2 separate regions of the Homo sapiens genome follow, and region 2 is linked to region 1. A link means that fine-mapping ties the variant in region 1 to the expression of a gene that starts in the linked region. Tissue or cell type: monocytes after Pam3CSK4. Region 1 holds a variant in brackets; the other region holds the start of a gene. All regions are shown on one strand. Distances are between the middles of the regions.

Region 1 (2,682 bases):
GGCACTCTGAGCCCTTTTGACAAGCAGGAGAAATGATGGGTCAAGGAATTTGACCTCCCTGCTCCCCAGTCCTCTCCATAGGAGAGAAAGCATGCACTTCGGAATTTGAATCCCGGCTTAACAAGCTTGGTATCTGACTGACCTTAGGCAAGCTGTTGGGCCTCAGTTTCCTCATTTATAAATCAGGTCTTATAAAATGATTAAATGATCTTTCACAAGACTGTTAAAAGGATTACATGGAATACTGCATTATAAAACACTTAGCTCAGGGCCCTGGCATATATTAAGAATGTAATAGATGGTAATTCATTTATTCATTATTATTATCATGATTATTTCATGGATCCACCACCAGTCCTGCTGCCATAGATCAGATCTTAGGGGGTGTCAAGTTTGGGAGCCTAGGGAAGGGGTGGGGTTTCAGGCCACTGCAAGCGACAATGAGGTCTATAGAAGTGAGGGGAGGGGAGACCAGGGAGAGAGCAGATGAAAGAAAATTTGAAGCAGCTGCAGAGGATAGGGCAGGTCCAAGCCCCATGTGTAGTCCCTGGCTAACCAGCCTGGGCCGCTGTCCCCATGCACTGCCCAGATGGAAGAGACAGTTGACTGGCTAACTGAGAGATCTCTGCCTGAGACAAACCCACCCACGAGGGAGAAATTCCAGCCACCTTCTTTCCAGCATCCTCCACAAAGTTTCTTATTTCCACAAGCCCCTTTGAGGTCTTTAACTTATAATCTAAGGGGGTAAAATTTGCTCATATTCTTTCAGAGGCTAGCCTCAGAGAACTGCATTTTTAAGATTTGCTGTCATAGGCCAGGCACGGTGGCTTACGCCTGTTATCCCAGCACTTTGGGAGGCCAAGGCAGGCAGATACTTGAGGTCAGGAGTCCGAGACCAGCCTGGACAACATGGTAAAACCACGTCTCTACTAAAAATACAAAAATTAGCTGAGCATGGTGGTGGGTGCCTGTAATCCTAGCTACTCTGGAGGCTGAGGCAGAAGAATTGCTTGAACCCAGGAGGCGGAGGTTGCAGTGAATAGAGATCGTGCCACTATACTCCAGCCTGGGCGACAGAGCGAGACTCCATCTCAAAAAAAAAAAAAAATTGCTGTTTTAGCCTTCAGTAAGCCTAGATGCCCACACCTCATCCCCCTACTCAGGCATGGTCTGGGTGTGCCCTACGTGATGTTAACCAGGGCGCTTGCTCTGGCCAGGCTTCCAAAGCTTGGGAATTTAATTAGCCAAGAGAAAGAGGTTCCTCCCAGTGAGGGGGCTTTGCTTCCTCGGATAATTTCCATGGCTCCTTCTGCAGCTGAGTTAGTTCTCACTGGTTTTCATTTTGCTCTGCTCTGCTCAAACTCTCTCAGTCACACTCTGCATTTGCTTTAAGACTGGGTTTGGTGTCCTGTCCAAGCTCTCCCAGCCTGGCCCTGATTTTGCCTTTGCTGCTGCCCCCGTGGTGAGTCAGCTGACTCCCAGAGGCCTCCTCAAACCCTGGCTGAGGGCCTTCTA[A/G]TCTCACCTCTGTGTTCTCCTTTGCAGGCAGCTACAGGATCGGGATGGAGCAGCAAAAGAACTAGGAAAGCCAGAGTGAGAACAGCCACACCCCTTCTCTCTAGGTCCAGTTTCCATTTTAATTCAATGTGATGGATATTTATAGAGTGTCTAACACAGGAGGGCTCAGAACCAAGTGTGTGTGCGTGTGAGTGTGTGTGGGAGAGGGCGTGTGTGTGCCTTGGGAGGTTCTGTGATGGGATAGATGGAGACTCATCTTTTTTGGCTTATATCTCATATCTTAAAAAATGAAATTCAGAACTGCTTTGAATGTTCTACAGAACACATCGCACCCCGTCAATACTGATCAATGGATGAACTGAGTTTTTTAATTTCAGGGTTTTCTCACAAGTTGGGTCCCCAGGGCCCAGAGGGAACACTACCCCCTCAGCTCTCAGCCCCTCCAATCTCCACACTAATCCATGGCTTTGCCTCTTGTGGCTCTCGGGCTGAGAGCTGGAGGTAATCATGATAAGTCTGCAATTAACACAGTCTCCCTCCTCCTCTAACCTTAACAAAGACAGAGACAGCCAGCACAGGGGCTGCACTTGTCTCCTCCTCTGCGCTGTTTGTTAGCCTCACAGATTATTATTAGAGGCACTGCAGAGCTAATCACCTCCCTGGTGGACACCCTGCCTCCCCCTGGCTCCTGCTCCTACATCCTCTGCATTTGACCTGGCTTCCCAGGGCTCCCTGGCTGCTTGCTGGCTGCTCCCGGGGAGGAGCAGAGGTGAGCCCACCTGGGCAGTTCTAGGGGATCATCTCCCCCAGGAGGGTGGCCTCTGCCCTGAGCCCCCAAGGACAGACACTGGTGGGGGTAGAGGGGGTGGAGGAAGAGAGGGGAGAGGAGAAGAGAAGGAGAGGGAGGAGGAACTTCGGAGAGGTACTGTAAGCTAAGCTGCCCTGGCGCTTATTCAACTCTAGTTAAGCCCTTGTTAGTACAACCAGGGGGAAGCACACTGGGAGAGGGAGGAAGACCAGAGGATGGCAGAGCTCCCCTCCCATAAATCAATGAAGGGTAATAGAGGAGGGTAATTAGCATTTCTCTCCTTCCCCAAAAGACTGCAGAAGAGAAAACAAACTTCAATTCCAGCAGAAGGAATTTAAGTAGCCCAGAGAAAGAAGTTC
Region 2 (2,682 bases), 63 kb before region 1:
AATGGAACCACTTTAGTGGTGATCAAGGGAAGGGTGTTTGCCACAAACATACTGGATCCTGAATCTGTGGGCAGACATCTGAGTACAGCACTTCCCCTACCAGTAAAAGGGAGGTGCTAGTGCCCTCCTAGCCCAATTAGGGCAGGCTCCGTAGCTGGGTGGGGCTGAGCTTGTAGGAAAAGGCCTACTAGGCAGTGCCCTGCAGGGCTGGGCAAGCCAGGACTGATGGCTGGGCCAGGTGAGAAAGATTTCCTGCTGTATTTGCAGACTGAATATGTGTCTGGGGCTAGGGGCTGAGCTGCTGCCAGCACCATCTGACCTCAAGGATCCCCCTAGTCAACAAGCAGCAAGAACAGGAGACTCCAGAGGCTCCCTCAGCTTTGGAGATAGCTCTGCAAACAAAACTCAGTTTTTAGGGGTTAATCCTCAGCCCCAGGAGGAGGCAGTGGGCCTCCTCTGAAGGGCAGAGTCAGCAAGTGGGCTGAGACTAAAGGAAAGGCCCAAGACTGCAGGCCTGAGATTAGTTTGGCAGCAGCTCCAAAGAGCAGCCCTTGAATCGCAGGGATTGTCTGAGCCCTCAAAAGCACTGGCTGCCTCCCACCAGCCTAGCTAATGGGGCTGAGCTGCTGGGGCCATGACCTCTGTCTACCCGGCTGATGGTCTGCTGCTCTGAATCTCACTCCCCCAGCACCCAGCAGGACCAAGGGCTCTGTCTAGCTTATGTGCATCGTGCCCTTGCATGTTTTCAGCACCTACTATGCGCGCAGCATCACACCTCCCCATCCACCTGCCTCCTGTTACTCTCACCAGCACGCTCAGTCAACCCTTGGGCTAATTAGTGATTAGGTCTACAGTAAGCATGCATGGTGGGGTGCAGAGAGTGGGGTGGCCAGCGGGTGATGAGTGAGGGGAGAAGAGAACAGGAGATAGGAGGTCATGGTCTGACCTTCTTCCAAAGCCCGGAATCCCTGAGTCTGTCTCTGGCAGCTGTGAAACAGAGGGAGCATGGGATCTGAACCGTGCCGCCATCTGGGAGGTCACACACACTCACAGCCAAACCCCCGGAAGGAAACTCGGGCTGAAATACACCGTTTGCTGAAGAGCAGGGCTGGGCACTGGTTTCTCTGCGTTCTGAATTTCTAGAAAGGGTAGGGTCTCCGTTGCCAGGCGGCGTCTGCCACCTCTTCCCACCGCGGCCCCTCCAGCCCTCCACCCCTTCCCCTGGGAGACCCCCTGTGAGGACCCTCAGCAAACTTCTGCAAAACCTGACGGGCCCTGGGTGCAGGGTGGTGTGGACGCAGATCTTTCAGGCCGAGGGGGGGGCGGCGGGAGGGTGGGCGTGGAGGTGCGAGAGGCGCGCAGCCTCCGCCTGCCCAGCTGTCTCTGCGGACCCCGCCGAGGGAGGGAGAGAAGCGCTAGGAAAAGGAAGAGGAGAAGGAGCTCGAGCGGGAGGCAAGCGAGAGGCTCTTTTGCTCCTCCCAAAGCAGGGGGCGGCTCCACTGTGCTTCTGATGACCCGGCCGCCGCCGCCGCCCTGCAACCGCTCCCCGGGACCCCTCAACGCTGACACTGATGACCCGCGGCGGGGGCGCTGGGCGCGGGGTGCGCAGGCCACTGGCCGCGGGCTCTCGGGCCCGCTCCTGCCGCCGGCTTCTGCTGCTTCCGCGGTAATGACACTCGGCGGAGCGGCCGCCATCTCTTCTGGTACTTTCACTGGAGGAGGGAAGGGTGGGGAGAGCCCTCTGTCCACCCCTGCCCTGCCCTGGCGCTGGTCCGCCACTGCCCGCTGCTCTCGCGCTGGTCCGCAGCTCAGCCGAGCAGCTCCCTTCATCTGGCCTCCCAGACCCTCACTCAGCCGCGAGAGGAGGAGCTCCGGCGACCTCGGGCCTTCCCTTAGGGTCTGCGCGGCCCTTACCCCAAACCCGCCCAAGGTAGAGGCGTGAAGGGGCCGGCGGCGATGCAGAGGCGGGAAGCGCATTGGGGAGGCGAGGCTGGAGAAGGGGACGCAGGGAGGCGGGGGGTGGACCCCCAGCATACTCCAGGAGCCGGCAGGAGCCAAACCCCAGCCCTCCACACAGGTATTCCTGCGGACCACGAGGTGCCACCCGTCCCTGGTCGCAGAAAAGACGAAGGGAAGGCCCAGCTTCCCTACCTCTACCTCCCATGCCGGGCGCCCAGCCTGCTCAACTGAACCCCAAGCCGCAGGTTAACCCTGCTCCAGCTTCTCCCCTTGGCTATGGGCAAACTCCTTTTCTCTTTCCCATTGAGAACCACCGCTCAAATTCGGAGGGCTTTCCTCCTTGGTGCTCAGAGCTCCCAAGATGGGTGATTCTCTGCCAGGGGTCCTTAGCTACCCACTTTGGACAAGGATGGACAGATGTTTTCTCAAGCTTGCCTAAAGCACAGCTTCTAAACAGATGAGCCCTCCCCACGTTCCCCGCAGATTGTCTGGCCTTCGAGGAAATAAAGATGACCGTAGCCAAGCTGCCCTGCTCCGCACAAAGGACCCTGGGCGCCCCATCCTTAACTCCCCTGCCTTATGCTTGAGATTAGCATATCCACCCAGCAACTCCTCTGCTCCAGACTTAACTTGACCACTGCAGTCCACACCGACTCTCCTATCCACCAGAACTGTGCACTTAAAATCTGCTGCACACAATCCCATACTTGCTTGAGTCTGGCT

Which allele goes with the higher level. Positions count from the first base shown, and alleles are read on the strand shown. Sizes are in standard deviations (SD) of each study's normalised expression.
As copies of G replace A in region 1, the expression in monocytes after Pam3CSK4 of the gene that starts at base 1,496 in region 2 goes down (large effect, 0.82 SD a copy in Quach 2016).

What was found. PIP is the estimated chance that this variant, and not a neighbour inherited with it, causes the effect.
Region 2: it holds the start of LINC00900, and the variant in region 1 is fine-mapped to the expression of LINC00900 in monocytes after Pam3CSK4 (Quach 2016, PIP 0.95).

Annotation. Positions count from the first base shown.
Region 1 is chr11:115,695,642-115,698,323 of GRCh38, reverse strand. The region is part of intron 2 of LINC02698 (long intergenic non-protein coding RNA 2698); the gene reads right to left. Among named protein-coding and RNA genes, the nearest start is that of LINC02698, 38 kb to the right of the region's middle. The variant A/G (reference allele first, on the strand shown) is at 1,516.
Region 2 is chr11:115,759,014-115,761,695 of GRCh38, reverse strand. LINC00900 (long intergenic non-protein coding RNA 900) reads left to right here and starts at 1,496. Exons shown (of 3, transcript NR_034148.1): 1 at 1,496-1,666. All of the region lies in intron 2 of LINC02698 (long intergenic non-protein coding RNA 2698), which reads right to left. RefSeq lists an enhancer at 1,902-2,436.